Linked DNA regions of Homo sapiens: region 2 is linked to region 1. A link means that fine-mapping ties the variant in region 1 to the expression of a gene that starts in the linked region. Tissue or cell type: left ventricle. Region 1 holds a variant in brackets; the other region holds the start of a gene. All regions are shown on one strand. Distances are from middle to middle.

Region 1 (8,263 bases):
TGCACATGCTATGTTTCAAATGGACACATCATCTAGGAAAAGTTTTCACTGGGCCTAGAAAGAATCCTTAGACCCAAAAGAAAGAGGATAAAACAAATGAATAACTGGCAAAAGGAAAAATGTACGCTTGACTTCATAGCATCTCTGAAAAGAAAACTAAACTCAGAAGTACCATTTTGAGTAAAATTGTTCTTCCCTTTCTTGCTTCCCCTTCTGCTGTACAGTTTCTTTTCCCAACAATCTTTTCCTCAAATAGAGTTGTATGAGCCACCTGGGGAGAGTCAAAGGAAGGTTGGTGTGTAACCCCAGGGAATTCCCAATATGAGGGAATTCAAGTGAAAATGAAATGAACAGAGGGAAACTATTTAGTGACAAAGAATCTAAATTCCAGCTTCTGAATCCCAGAGCCATTTTTCAGACATTAATATGAAAAGAGAAAATACTGGCAATATTGAGGCCATCATAAAGAATATGCTTTTACAATGAATTAGGCAGAGGAACAAGGAGTGGTTTTTTGGTGTGCCTTGCTCCAGGGCACCTACATCTATCCGGGAAGACATGTCATAATTAATATAGCTTAAAGGGTGGCAGAAATTGAACAGGCAGTGAAATGAGGAAGATTTCTAGTGCCTCCTAAATGGGGACTTCACATTGTGGTGTCGTGATATGCTAGGAAGTAGTATGAATTCCCAACATTAAATATAATCAAATGAAAACACTACTCCCAAACTAAAGAAAGATGAGCCTCTTCACAAGTCTATTCTCTTCACAGGATGTAAGGATGACTCAGAGTTGATCATCCTTACAAAAATGGCCTACAATTCAATATCAGCAACAAGCAAGAAACTATTCTATTCAGAGAATATTCAGAGAAATTCCATTTTCAAGTGATACTAACTCAAGACCTACAGAGTCTTCATATTTATTTTAATTTCATAAAATAAGCCTAAGGCTGGAAGAAAAATATATAGACACTTCCGACAGATTTTGATACTAAAAGCAATCATCCATATCCAGCACCTTTCCATGTAGCCAGTGACGAGCAAGCTGGGTTTAACTAAGCAAAATGTATGAACATAAATGGTGGGGGAAAAACTCAGATCTGTGGAAAAATGATGGGGACTAATGGGGGACGGGAAGCACAGAGCTGTGAAAAAATGACGGGGAAGAGGGAAGCAAGAAGGTTTAAAGGGGTTTAGCAAAAACAAGAGCTTTACATTCACTCATCTACTCATACTGACTGTATGCCAGGTACTAGGAACACAATGCTGAATAGGACATATTCCATGTCTGCATGGAGATTACAACTAGTAAGGTGGATATACACCTAAGCCTGACATAATACAGCATAATTAAGTACTAAAGTCGGGGCAAACCAACTTGAGGAAAGACCCCTTAACCCATCATGGGGTGTGAGAGGTCACGAAAAGCATCCCAGAGTAAAGAAGGTCAGAAGCCAAGGCAAATGCCAAGGTGAAAGGCATTGTGAACAAATCTCCTTTCCTACTCACCTAATGTCCTTTTTACTTTCACTTATGGCCCAGACAAAAGGCGATGATCAAAAGAGGTGGGTAAACGGACCAGAGGATGAAACCAGCTGAAACCATGATGTTATAATCACACATACAACTATGTGAAAATTTGAGAATACAGGAGGGAGAGTGTAACTCTGAGACTGACAGAGGTGATGTTTAGGCCAAATAGTGGAGGTTGGGTAAAAAAAAAAATGGCAAGAGAATCGTAGTGGGAGACATTGACAGAGTATTCATGGCTGATCGATTTCATCAGCCCAAACAGAACTGTCACCTAGAGTCCACTGCTCAAATTGGCTCCTTTTATTTTTTCCTGGTAAACTAGCCAACATATGTGGAGTATGCTCAATTGCCCCTTCTAGAAGGCCTTAAAAAAAAAAGTGTTTTTTTTCTCTCTTCAGTATTTTATTTGATGTTTCTGTTAGATTTCTTATCCCTAAGCAATGGCAGAAAAATATGTTTGCCAATATACAATCAGCTCTGAGAGTCAAATGAAAACTGTCCTTCTTTACATGTATAGGTTTCTCCAGTGCTGCATGAGGGCGCAGTTGTGCTCAACTTTTTCTCAAGGTCAATACTACATTTATAGATTTCTTCACCATTGAGGATTTTGGTGTTGGATGAAATGAAGGCACCAAAAGATGCTTCACAGCATTGGACATAATATATGGGACTTCTCCTTCAAGTGGATTCTCTTGAAGCTGAGGAAGGACGGCACACTAAGTGAAGATCTTCCCACTTACTGCCTGCACAGACCCACTCCCCTGAAGAATGCTTCTGTGGAACAATCACATCTTAGGGGAAATCACTGACATATTCTTCTTGGTGAGTTGCCGTCTATCTTTCACTGTCTTCCTGTTGCTGAACAATTTACAGATTGGAGGATGTACAGCATTTATGGACCTTTCTTGTAATATTTCAGTATACTGTGATACCCTGGAAATGTCCTGCTAACCAAACCTGAGTAAAAAAAGAAAAAAAAATACATGTCTCAAATGTATATTAGTATTATGGGAATCCAACATTTTTGAGAATTCAAAACAAAGGAAGAAAACCAAAATGAGGTATAGCCAAATTTCCAACTTCCTTCCTTCCTTCTTTCTCTTTTTTTTTTTTTTTTTGGAGACAGTATCTCACTCTGTCGCCAAGGCTGGAGTGCAGTAGCATGATTATGGCTCTCTCTGCAGTCTTGACCTCCCAGACTCAAGCGATCCTCCCACCTCAGCCTCCCGAGTAGCTGGGACCACAGGTCCAGTCACCACCATGTCTGGCTAGTTTTTGTATTTTTTGTATAGATGGGGTTTCACCATTTTGCTCAGGCTGGTCTCAAACTCCTGGGTTCTGGTCAACTTTCATTCATCCATTATCACTCTCCACTTTCAACTATTACTCTACATATTTTTTAAATGAAAAATAGTATTGGTTTTATTGCATATTTCATGCTTTGAAAGAGATAATAAGCAGATTCTGGAAGTTCTTTGAAAATACAACCATGGTGTTTTTGAGAGCTAGACTAAAATATGACTTTAACATGATATACAAAAGAAATAGCTTGGGTCAGAACAAAGGGAAGGGGGCCTTAAGAATGGGAAGTGGAGTGTATAACAGAGAAAGATGTGAAGAAGCAAAATACTTTGGAATTAGCTGGGGTAGGTATGGGAAGGAGCAGAAGCACACACAGAAAGGTAAAAGATAAATCGATGTCATTCTGCAATGTTGCTCACCTGTATATCTGTGTTCTCTACAACTGAACTCTCAGCATCTAAGATTCTAACTAATGCATCCCCACCACAGAGCTCACAGACCTCTGCACACAGCCAGCACTAAAGAGTTTTTGAGGGCACAAGAAGTTTTACTCTCTCTTCCCCCTCTTTCACCATATATCTCCCTGACGACTTCTTCAAACCTAATACATCAGTTTCCTCTCTTTTTCCAATTTGTTTCACTTCCCACTCTCTGACCTAGAAGTCAACCCAGGGTTAGGTCCTCTGTTAAATGACAGGCTGTGGAGGCCAGAGACAAAATGGCAGGTCTGAGAGTTCCTATCTAAGGCCACCAGACTTCAAAGAAGCAAAGAGGCTACAGAGAGGTAGAACATAGAGGTGGAACCAGAAGAGACAAGGATCGGAAGAGAAGCAGAAATAAGTGAAATGAAGTAGGATGGTTCCGATCTGCTCGTGCCTAAAAACATTTACTGTGGGATCCTTTTCTTAGGGTCCTTGGCGTGACTCCTGGGGCAAGGGCAGAGTGTTAGAGGAGCCCTGTCTAGGACAAAAACAAGAAAAGGTACTCACGAGGGAGAGAAGGATGAAGATTCCAGGAACTGCGTGTGAGAAAGAGGACAGAAACAGAGTATTTAAGACTAGTCGGAGCTAGTATGAAATAATAAAGGGAATCTGTAGGTATTATAGAGGGAAGCCAAAGATGTGGGAGGAACTGAGCGTTAACGAAGGCAAGGCAGAAAGTGACCCTAGAAATGCTGTCGGGTTTCCAGTCCCTGCTCACACTTCATTCAATGTCTCATCCAAAAGAGAAACAGCAGAATTAAGCCACACCCACGTAGCTAGTCCACACTCGATTCCCCCGTGCAAGCAACTTTTTCTCAAATGATTTTCTCAAAAATCTTCGTGACTCAACTAGTCGCGAAGATTTCCTCTTAAAAGAACAAACTGCTACCACCCTGCAAAAACTACAACACCCATAGTGCCCCGCGCACAGCCCGAGTGACCCATTCTCTTCCGATTCCCACCAGCTAACGGTCTTAGCCAATTTCCTCGGCCGGGAAATGATTTGGAGCACATGCGCACTTCCCCTCCTTGTCCTGG[G/T]CTGGCCTCCAACTTGGAACGCCGGCGAACCGCCTGACCTCTTCCGGCGGCCTCAGCCTGGGACGCATGCGCACATCGAGGCTCCCCGACATCAGGCGCGGGTCTTTAATTACATATTTTGCTATGCTCCAGGCTATGCATTTGGAACAGTGCTTTCCTTTTTATCTTTATTTTGTTTCTTTTGCTTAACTTCGGGATGCAGCAATGAAGTGTTATTAAAAGAGCCCTAAAGCTGAGAGTGAAATTTGGACTCTGTAACAAACCAGCTGTGGGGTCTTAAGCAAGTCACTTAAACGTGGGGACCTCGGCCTCCAAACCAGATGACACTCGAGGCACAGCCTGCCTCCTATCGCTGCTGGAAAGACTGTGGAAATGGTACTGTTGGTGCCCATAGACCTCCAGACCCCCATGGGACAGCAGCTGGGCATTCCTCCACCATTGAATGAAGTGTGAGCAGGGACTGGAAACCGGACAGCAATTCTAGGGCCAGTTGGAAGGAGAGGTAGGGAAAGAGAAGCTTCCTTCGCCTTTCCCTCGAGCCCACGTCTCATCAGTAAGCAATTCCTGACAGTTCTCCACCTACATATCTTCCCACTTTTCTCCATCCACACTGCCATTTCTCTATCTCCACTGCCATACCATTTTCTCTTGCTTAAATGATTTCCCTGTTTCTAGTCCCTACCCTACCGGCTGTGGGATCATTCTAAGATGCAAATTTGATCATTAAAATATTTCATGGCTTCTCTTGGCCCACAGAATAAAGTCCGAACACCTTAACAAGGCTGTCATTGCCTGACTTCTTCCTAGTCTTCCAGACTTCCTTCTCTCCCTCTGTGTTCCAGTCATCTTCAGAAACTATCAGTTTAACAAACCAGGCTGCCTCTTACTTCAAAGACTTTTTGCATGTAGAAACAACTTAATGAACATTCTGAACTCTGCTGAACATATTCTCAATGAGGTTTTAACCAGTGCCTTCAACCATACTCTCAGTTCTTCCAGCCCTGACGGATTCTGTAGTTTTCTGTTTACTTAATTATTAGAAGTCCAGTCTAATGCAGTCCACTTAAAATCTTACATCTCATTTCAAGTTTTGCAGTGAGATTTGCAAAACTTCCTTCCTTCCCCTCAGCACCAGCCAGACTTGAGCAGTGGAGCTTGGTTTGGGGAAGTGGTGTATTCTGTCCTTTAATAGAAGTCTGCCTTTCCCAAAAATACTTATTGTGTTGGGACCCTGAGGAAAAATCAGGGAGGGCTGGGAAGTGAGGGCCAAAAGTCATTTTGCCTAACTGGGCATTTAATTGCAATTGTCTGTTGGTTCTCTCCACCTCTCAGTTGAAGGCTGATTGGTCACGAATACCTTCCATTTGGAAGGTACCCAAATGCTAGTTCTTAATAGGCACATGGGTTAGTTCCCTGGGAGCTCTCCCCAGTACACAATTCCTTGATGGGAGATCTGCTGCAGCTTAAAACTGTTACTGGTAGAGGGTCTTGACTGCAAGTTGTCCAGATTTTTGGCGTTTTCAACAAAGGATTGGACAAAACGCACAGCAAAGCAAGGAAAGAAGGAACAAAAGCAGAGATTTATTGAAAGTGGAAGTACACTCCACAGTGTGGGAGCAGGCTGAGCAGAGGCTCAAGGGCTCTGATGCAGCATTTTCTTGGGTCCAAATACCCCCTAGAGGTTTCCCATCGGCCACTTGGTGTTCACCCCATGTAAATGAAGTGGTGGCCCACAATCAGTCTGATTGGTTGTGGAAAACAACCAATCAGAGGCTGAAGTGAAGTTACAAAGTTACACTCCTATGCAAACATCTGATTGATTGCAAAAAGCAACCAATCAGAGGTACTTTCAGTTTCCCATCTGCCCTGCAGAAAAGGTAGGAGTTTTTAAAGGGAGCAGCTTCTGGTCCTTTTGTTACTTAGGCGTGGAAAGTTAAGGCTTTCCTTTCAATTTAGTTCTAAGGAAGTCGGCATGAAACCGCCTTAGGTTCCTTGCCTTCAGACCCTATTCTCCTGCCTCATAACTACTTCCCACAACCCCTCAGCCCTGCTCTTGGTGGTATAACTAGGTTCCCTGGCTTGGCAGCCAATTCTCTTGGAAGGAGAACCGGCAAGATGGCCCACACCCTGTTGAGTTTCACACTGTTCATTTAACTCACAGTAAACTCACACCGATTTCCACACTGTTCATTTGACTCACACATCCTTGCTAAACCAAGTGGTAAGAGTGATAGCTCTTTCCCTGTCATCCTTCTCTCCCTGCTCTAGTGATCACAGAGTACAGATCAACAAGCTCATCAGCAGATATCCAACCAGAGATTGAGATAACAGTCTCTTCTTGCCAGCCCACCAATTTCTATGAGTGATTCTCTTGGAGACCCCTCACTTGGAGGAGGTGAGAACAAAAGTCACATCACTCATTTCCGTGGCTGGGTACACACGACTCCATCAGTGCCCTTTCTCTTTTTACCTCCATATTATCTTCTAGGGGATGGTTTTAAATCTAGGAGATGTTAAGGATGGGGAGCTGTAGTATGGTTCGGGGTAGCAGAACTAACTTTCCACTTTTAATGGCACCTCTAGGATGTTAGCGCAGGACAATATATTCCAAGTGGCCTTGGACAAACCCAGTTCTCCTCTCTTTCTTGCTTGTTATTCTCAAGAAAAACTGTAAAATGTGCTGGGAATACAATATCCTGAGAAAGGAAGGAACCGCTTGAAATAGACTGGGCCTCCTTGTTCCTGTCCCTCCTAGGGAATGTAACATCTGGAGTTAGAGAGGAGGTGCCAGGGACAGCCCAGGCTTTGTACCTCTCTCCCCTGGAAGCAGGATGCCCTTCCCAGCTTTGTCCAGTGAGTCACATGACCCCTGAGGTATATAACTCATAGTGGGCTGCCTTTTGGGGCCCCTCACTTGTGGTGCACATGGGGCATGTACGGGCAACACTCAATCCTGCCCAGGAAGCTTCCTTGAGCCTTGAGGGCTGCCTCACAATGGATCCTAGGCTTCTTTTTTCCCTTGCTGCTTGCCTGTAAGTAATAATCCCACCTCACAAAATTTGTTGCATGTGAGTGTATCTCCAGCAGACATTGGTAGACCTTCAGGCCAGGATGTAGTGGGCAGAAGTGTGTGGGCTCCTATTTCTGTCGATTGGCATAGTGTCGATCTCTGCTGTCCTGCTTGTAGTGGGAGTCTTCTCTTGGGATTGGTTATTAGTGAACCTGCCTCACAAAATTGATGCTATGAGCAGGGTCTGATCTGACAGAACCATGGCTTTCTGGTGAAGTGGGACGGTGATATCCCCCTGTATCTGACCCAAGGCAGAGATGTCAGCCTGGGCATTCAGGAACTGACGGGACATGCAGCTGGATGAGTCATGGGGAGGGAAGGATGATAAGCGAAACATAGTCTCCCCACCTCCCCTGCAGATGGGAGTGAGCTGGCTGCATAGACCGAGGAGAGGGTATGGAATGTAGAAACAGGATAGAGCAGTGTACAATTCCCTGGGTGTTGGGCACTTACGTAATCGCTCATTCCCAGGCCAGAGAGCTTGGGAAGTGGGTATTCTGATGGACCCTGAGGCACTTGAGAGAGAATGGGAAAGAGGTCCTCAGACAGTCCCTGGAACATCTGAGAGGGAACCAACACACACAGGGTGGGTCTTCACAGATGGGGAGACCGCCTATCTAAAGGATGGATATGGAGGAAGGCCAGGGAAGTCTTACGCAGCCTGGGCGGTGTGTTTGATAAAGGACACTGCAGACCCAAATGTCTCAGGCTGAATGGTGCAGTTAGAAATGGAGCCAAGGTCTCTGGGTCCCCACTGAGTACCAATGGCTCCATACTCCTGTCAGGATAAAAGGGGGAAGGAGAAGGATTCAGACTTTTCTGGGGTTCTTGTGCCC
Region 2 (8,000 bases), 31 kb before region 1:
CACGCACATCCTAAATTCATATGTGCAAGTCTAGTATAGAGAGTGTGAAATGTTACTTTTCTCAAGCAAACACTCTCCAACCGTTAAGTCTCACTTATTTTTTCTGGGTGTTCAGGGACCCTGACTGCCAAGAGATTTACCTCCCAGCTAGGCAAACATGATTTTGGCCTCCTTATTTCTTTGGCATCAGAAAGGTCTGCTACCCCTGTAAGTTTCCTGCTCTGTCCTCTCTAAGATAAGAACACAGCATGGCTGGGCTACCATCACCATCATCGCTGCAGCTCATGCTTGCCCAAGTGGTGTTGGCCCTTTCCCTACATTGTCTCTTTTAATAGCTGTAAGTAAAGGAGACTGTTGTTGTTGCCGTTGTCGTTTTGGGAAGGAAGGGATGCCTTCATGACAATCTTCCTCCAAGGAAAAAAAGTGATGACCATTTGAGAGAAATATCCTTACTCAGAGTAGTTTTTTTCAACATAATACACATACACTATGATTTATCTTCGTTTATTAATTACACCAAGTAAAAATGTGAGACGCCTCTGTTTCTTATAACCTAACTTTCTTTTAAAGAGAAAATGTCCTTCTTCAGTCGTAAATCCAAATTTACAATAGAAACTGTGTCCTCCAACTGCCAATATGACATCCAGGGCAAACTTTTTATAAAAGACACACAAACTCCTGGGTTTGTCATCAGTCAGTAGGTATGTATTTGAGGTGTCCCACATAGTATTTTGTAAAAACTTGAGTCAACCTTTTAAAATCAGGCATGTTCGCTGAAAATCCAGATTTCCAGTTTTCTTGAAAAACGGTTAAAGCCAAGCCAGGTCCTGACTTTATACTTGACAACAAGCAGCTGCAGCTGATTCCTTTGGATAGGACATGTGTGTTCCAGTTCCTTACAGATCCCATCACACACACTCACATCAGCTCTTACCTGCTTGTCCCTGGTAGGTCTTCAGATACAAGTTTGCACACCTTTGCACTTCTGATTTCACAGAGCCATTTGGGCTTATAAACTTGTAGTGTAATTTTTGAAAAAGAATTTAAATTCTTTTAGATAAATGTTAAAAGGGTGTGATGAAAGCTGCCTCATGACTGTTCTCTACTTTTTCAAGGTATCTCTCCTATCTTCAATTCCTTACATCTTCAATTCCTGAGCAGACCAGGACTGAAGTCTTAGGAACCTGAGGTCCAGAGGTCCTGGGTTCCAGAGACACAGATGTGGCAAGGCGAGTCACAGGACGCCCTGATAGGAACTGTGAGAGAATAGAAAGGGAAAGACCATTAAGGAAAAGGGAAGCCAGGAATGAAGGGGAGAGAGGTTGAGGAAAGGGAAAGGGGAGACTTACGTTTGCCTCTTAAACCGGGAGGTAAAGCCCACAATGAGGAGGAACAGCAAGCACGCCAGGACTGCCAAGGCAATCAAGCCCATGGAGGTGTAGCTCCCACCTGCTCTGGAGGAACATAGGCTGTCTCTCAGCACAGGACCCCTCTCTACATATATCCAATCCCCTGGTCTAGGCATGTGTGAGGGTACCAGGTGCTTCTTATTTCCTCCTCCACTTAAAACCCCAATTTCTATTCCTCATAAGTTTAGATTCCCCATCTTGTTTTCAGTGCCTGGGCATCCCAAATTCAGCCCACTTTGACATTTGCTAGTGTAGCATAGAGGGAAAGGGCAACAGCTTTGTAGCAAGGCAGACCTGAATCTAAATCCAGCCCGTCCACTTTCTATGTGGCTCCGGGCAGTTAACCTATCTCCGCCTTCATTTCCTCATCTATATAACGAAAAGAGCAGTACTTGCTTCAAAGAAAACTGTGAATGATGAGATGAGATATTATATGCAGATTCATTGGCCCCTACACAGGGAGCACTCAACCAACCAAGCTATCTTTGCTAACCTGCCTTCCCAAAGGCCTGGCTCCCTTTAAGCCAAGGAATGAATCGTCCTGGGATTGTTTATTCGCTGCCTACTTCTGGATCCCTGAGTTTTGTAGTCTTGTTTCTTCTTGTATATAGAGAGCACTATTTCAATCCTTTTAGACTTTCAGGTCTTTATTTCCCTCCTTCCTGTGTCTGGAACCCCTCTCTCTATCCTTTTACTGGGGGCCTCATCTCTGAAACTCCTCTAACCTGGGTATATCAAGCCACATCCCACCCCAGTGCCTCCCTCTATGCCTGAGGACCACCTCCTGCCATTTCCAGCTTGGGCCCAGCTTTTTCTCACCCCAGTAGAGGACGATGTCCTGGCCCTCTAGACTGCTGTGCTTCACCCGACAGGACAGGCCAGCTGCCTCCCCAGCCACCACATCCAGGGTTGCTCGGAGATACCATGTCTCGTCAGCATTGGGCAGGATGTCCCCTGGCTGAGTGCCCTGCTGCTCCTGCTCACCCCGCATCCACTTCACCCATACAGGCTTTGGGTAGAATCCTGAGACATGGCACACCAGCAGCAGACGGCCAGGGCCAGGACTGGGGCCACGGGACAGCCAGGCCTTGGGCTTCACTGTATCCAACAAGGGAATGGGGGGGATCTTAAAGTGAAAACTCTGCATTAGAGGCTCCAGGCCTCATATCATCCTTTTTGACTTTCAGGTCTTTATTTCCCTCCTTCCTGTATGCCCCTGACATGTTCACTTCTGGAAATGAAGTCTCCCACAACTTTCAATCCATTTGTCCCACCTTCTTCAGGGAGCCTGCCCTGATACTCCTTCTTCTTCTCTGGTCCCAGCCTCCTATGAATGCCCCTTGTCTGTTCCCCTATAACACCCTTTGTTTTGAAGTAACATATGTAGCCTATTTCAAGCATTGCATTAATTAACATCCCCCTACCAAGCAGGGATCCTAACTAACTGCCTGACACCTTTCACCCCCAGTTGTTCATTAATTGAATTCATAGAACCCAAGAGGTGCTCAGTTGATGTCTGTGAAATGAATAAATACCCTCACCCCTTATCCAGCCCCTCCTGGGCCTTCCTCTTCTTTGAATGCTCAAAGGGATGAGAACCCTGGAATGGAAAAGCCCGTTTGGAGCCCTGAAGTGGAATGCAGGGAGTAAGGAAGGCAGGCTGACCTTGCTTCTTCAGTTCCGACTTCCCTGACTCAAGGAGGCCACTGACAAATTGGGGGCAGGTGCCATTAAGGAGCCACTGCACTGTTTCCCTCGTCCACTTGTCCTGGTTGAGCACTTGAATGGCCAAGTTTACCCAAAGTGGGGCCTCTTGGGTTGGCTCCCAAGAAGTTCCTTGGAAACTCAGGATATCTTTTCCTTGAAATGCTACATGGAAGAAGTTATTTGAGGCGTTCCCAGGGTGCACCTCACAGCCAGCGGACACCTGGAGCTCCAAGGGATCTGTGGAGAGGAATGGAGAAAGATCAAAGAAGGGTTTAAAAGACTGGGAGAGATGAAAGAGAAGAAATTGATGTGCAGGTTATAATGGGGACCCAGACTTCAGGGAAAGGAAAGTAAGTGACCTGGAGTAGGCAGGAACGAGGGACACTTTGAGGAGTCAAAGCCTGGGACATCTCCAGGTAGAAGGGAAATCAGAAGAGGGTGGACAGAGCAGAGAATCTCATCAGGTGGTGCCACAGTCTCCCAGTTGAGTTTCTGTGGCCATTCTCTCCCCTTGGGTACCGGCCCAGGATCCTATCCCTCAGCTCACAGGATAAGCGTAGCATTTTGGCGAATTCCTTCACGTCCCTGGTGAAGCTGCTTCGATAAACCCGAAATATATGCTGCAGCGTCTCCCACTGCTGGTCGCTGAACGTGCCCTGGGACCAAGGCTTCAGAGAGCGGACGGTGTCCGAGTCGTTGCTCCAGCTGTGCGTCTGCAGCTCCCCCAGCCACGCCAAGCCGTCGGTGCGCGTCCAGCTGCTATTGGCGAAGGACGAGATCTGGAGGCAGCGGAGGGGGAAAAGCCTTTGCGGGACTGGGAGAGAATGAAGATTGGAGGCGTGTAGCAAGTGGCCGGGAGAGCAGCCAGCATAAAGAGAAGGAAGAAAGAAACAAGAGGAGATGAGCTTCAGGAGGCGGCTGATGCCAGCGAACTCTGTGCCGCGCTGCCTCTCCCCGGAGCCAGGGAGCAGCGAGTTTTCTACCTAGATCGCGCCAGTGCGTCCCGGGTCTCACCAGTCCCCATCAGGCGTTGCCCTCCCCGTCCCTACCCAGCTCCCTCTCTCCGCCCTCCCGCGAGTGCACTCAAGCGCCCTCGTTCCACCCACCTTCAGCGCTTCCCCAAGCCTGGAGGAGCGCCCAGAGCAGCAGAAACAGCAGGCACCCCATATCGCCCGGCGTGGGGACCTCGCGGAGCGCCGCTGCGCGCCGCCCTCTGACCTGCGCACTCTTCTCCCCCGCCGCTCAGCTCACGTCCCTTTCCGCTGGGTGCCAGCCAATTCCCAAGCCCAGACCCCGGCAGCCCTCCTCGCTGGGCTTGCCGGCGGTTTGCTGCTTCTGCCGAAGGGCGCCCTCGCCCTTAGCTGTGCGAGCTGCAAAGAGGTCGGGGTCCCAGGAATCCTGGCGCCGCCGCTCACTTCAGTAGGTTTCACAACCGGCGTGTCTCAATTTCCTGTTTCAAAGGAGACTTTGGGTCAACGTGTGGGACGCTTTACAACCATTATTTATGTTTTGGAAGCAGGACATAAGGTTGTGTCTGTGTTACAATTCCAACCATGGTAAAAATGCAAAGGGAAAAAAGGATCAAAGTCCTTGCTTTAGCAGTACATGTCTCTAGGTGGAAAGACTATGAGTGATCTTAATTTGCTTTACATCTTTATGTTTTCCAAAATTTCTCAAGTGCAAGTACCACATTTACAATAAAGTAAACGCATGAAAATTAATTTCCTCAGTTGCACATTGAGAGAACTGGATTAGGTTGGCTACAATTCTTTACAACTGTCATATCCCAGGATTCCTCCACCTCAGTGTTCCCTAGCCTCTCTTTCCTCCTGTCATGGTCCTTGCTCTCCCCTCCCCGGCCTCTGCTCTGTCTTCCCTGTCTCCTTTTTGGGGACGCGCCCCCAGACTCTCTTCCTCCTCTCCGCCCTAGGCTCTGCCGGCATACCTTCTCCTCTGGCTCCTGACTCATTCACTTTCCAAATATGCGCCTCTGTCTTAAACAGTAAGTGTAAGATGACAGTGTGTACCTGGACAGCCAACTCGCCACTTCTCACACTGAAAATAAGAAAAAGTGACCAAAAATCGTGGTTCTAAGCCTTAGCTCACCTGGAGGAAAAGACTCCTCTTTGGCAACTCAGAACCTGGGCTGCAGCCTGACACCTCCCTCTCCCTCACTCTTTTTATCCAATCTATCTCCAACTCATCTCTATTTCACTTCTTTTTGAATACCTCTTGAATAAATTCCTTTTTCTATATTTCCACCGTCACCATCACCCTAACCTTTTGACTGATCTCCTGAAGTAGCATTCTTGGGTAGAAAACAAAATCATTAGCACGGCCTGCAAGATTATGCGCCCTCTAGCCCTGGTGTCTACCTTTTGACATCACCTCACACCCCAGCATCATTTGCTCTGTACTGTAGCCTGGCTGTTAGCTTTCAGTTCCTCCACTATGCAAAACCTCTTCCTGACTAAGGTCTCTGCACAAAGTTCCCTCTACATGAAAGCTCTTGACCTTCTCCTCACCTCACCCCCTCCCAATGCCTAGTTATTTCCACTAAGGTATCAGTTCCAAGGTCACTTTCTCAGGGAAGTCTTTCCAGATCTGCCAGACTGTGTGACCCTAGGCAGGAGAAGTAGGGCAGTCCCAACCTCCACTGCTTGTACACTAACTGGCTTTGAGAAGCCATCCTCTCAGCATGTAGCAGAGTTTATAATTATAGAAATGGCCATATGTCTGTCTCCCTCTGTGTCCTCTTCTAAATCAGCTGGAGAGGTGCCAGAAGGCAAGGATCATGTCTCCATAATCTGATTCCTCCCATTCTGCTAACGTTAATGTTTCCCTTCTCCCATATCCTGTTGCAGCAAGAGTCCTAGAGAAAATAGGCTACTGCACCACACTCTAGGCTGGGATCTTGTAGACAGCCCTAACCCAGCCTATCTAATTATGTGTAATTTGCCCAAAAAAGCTTAAAATAACATAGTAACGTGTTCTTGTAACAAATAAGGTGTTAAATTATTAAATTTGGATACAAAATTGCCTAAATAATGGATAGGAGGGAAGCTATGAGAAATAAAAAGAAAAATAATTATATGACTCATGGGGCAATATTTTTAACTTTACTTTCTTCAAATTTCCAAGCTCCCTTTAAAAACTTGAACAGTTCTGTTTAGTTTTTGTGTATCTTAAAAATTTTAAGTGCTAACATTCTTGCACACTTAAAGACAAGAAGCTGGTTTGTGTGTGTGTGTGTGGTTTTTTTGTTTTTGTTTGTTTATCAACAGAGGCCAGGCTATATTACCTTCAGAAGTTAGGACTATCTGGAATTATACGGATATTTTTTCCCAAAGGTCAGTTGAGTTAGACACTTTTTGGCTATTGGAACTTTCACTGCTTTTTTTCTGGGAAAGGAACCATTGAATTATGAAACGTTTTGCAATATGTTACCTAAACAAAATATTTTATAACAAGACTGACTCAGAATACCCTAGCACAGAGAGATGGTGATTTACTCAGAGCCTTAAAATAAGCCCACGGTGGGTACTACATGATCTCACTTATATGTGGACTCTAAAATAGTTTACTATTTTATGGAAACAGAGTTAGGGTAGTGGTTTCCAGGAGCTGGAGGGAAGGGGCAAATGTGTTAATTTTGGTCAAAGGGTTTCAGCCTCTCAATTTTGAGAGGCTGACCAAAACCTTGGAGCCTGATCATAAGGGACTTACTTGGTTTCAGTTCAGAATTCACAATTCACAACGTCAAATTAGTTGGAATCTTATATGCTTTCTTCATGTTTTTGTTATCCTAACCATAAGGAGACCATTTAATGTACAAAGGATAGCTGCATATGAGAATTTAAGATTCTTGAGAGGACACATCAGGGAAACTTTTATAATAGCTATCAGGAGGATAATACCAACGAACTAAAGAACTCTTCTTAATAGCACTTTCCACAAGCCAACCTGATCAAAATCAAACAATTCAAAGTTCAGTCAATAAAGTTTAACAGCATTCAAGTGCAATTGCTCATAGTCTTTATTCAGAGCATAATGGTGATCAAGGACCGTAGTTTGCTGTAAAATGGCCTGATTTAAAGAGGTATTCATTTTTGTAAGTAGCCTGATAATACAAACCACAGTAACCTGGAGATCCACTAAAAGAAACATAAGGATTAGAAAACCTTGTGATAGCTCTCTTACCTCTCGGACGTCCAGTCCCAGGAGCAAAACTCCAGCGACTTTGGGCCCCGCCCCCGTGAAAGTGGAGGGCGGCCGATGAGGACGGTTCTGAGGGAACTAGACCAATGAGACTAGCCTGGGGCGGGGCGCGGGGCCAGAGGGTGGGGCAGGTGGCGGCGATGGCAGTCCGAGGTCTGGCTCCGCGCAGTATATGACAGTACGCCAGCAGCGGGATGGCCCTAGCAGTGGCGGCGGCTGCAGAAGCCCAAGCAGCTGCGGCCGCAGTGGAGGCTGGAGCTGGACTGGCGGCGGCGGCACCTCTGGGAGTTTAAGATGTCGGGGGTGGGGGGGTCGCGGGGCAGCGCTATGGGCTCTCGTGCGGACGGCTGGGGCAGGACAACATCACCGTACTGCATGTGAAGCTCACCGAGTCGGCGATCCAGGCGCTCCAGACTTACCAGAGCCACAAGAATTTAATTTCTTTTCGACCTTCAATTCAGTTCCAAAGACTCCAGGAGCTTGTCAAAATTCCCAAAAATGATCCCCTCAATGAAGTTCATAACTTTAACTTTTATTTGTCAAATGTGGGCAAAGACAACCCTCAGGGCAGCTTTGACTGCGTCCAGCAAACATTCTCCAGCTCTGGAGCCTCCCAGCTCAATTGCCTGGGATTTATACAAGATAAAATTACAGTGTGTGCAACAA

Evidence for each region. PIP is the estimated chance that this variant, and not a neighbour inherited with it, causes the effect.
Region 2: CD1D starts here. The variant in region 1 is fine-mapped to the expression of CD1D in left ventricle (GTEx, PIP 0.97).

The regions. Positions count from the first base shown.
Region 1 is chr1:158,145,893-158,154,155 of GRCh38, reverse strand. The region is part of intron 1 of LOC105371460 (a long non-coding RNA gene); the gene reads right to left. Among named protein-coding and RNA genes, the nearest start is that of LINC01704, 9.4 kb to the right of the region's middle. The variant G/T (reference allele first, on the strand shown) is at 4,358.
Region 2 is chr1:158,177,385-158,185,384 of GRCh38, reverse strand. CD1D (CD1d molecule) reads right to left here and starts at 4,490. Exons shown (of 6, transcript NM_001371762.2): 1 at 4,223-4,490; 2 at 3,664-3,930; 3 at 3,075-3,353; 4 at 2,229-2,507; 5 at 1,350-1,449; 6 at 1-1,256. The coding sequence starts at 4,283. The coding sequence ends at 1,235. It also overlaps the pseudogene ELL2P1. RefSeq lists an enhancer at 3,960-4,019 and a silencer at 5,432-5,481.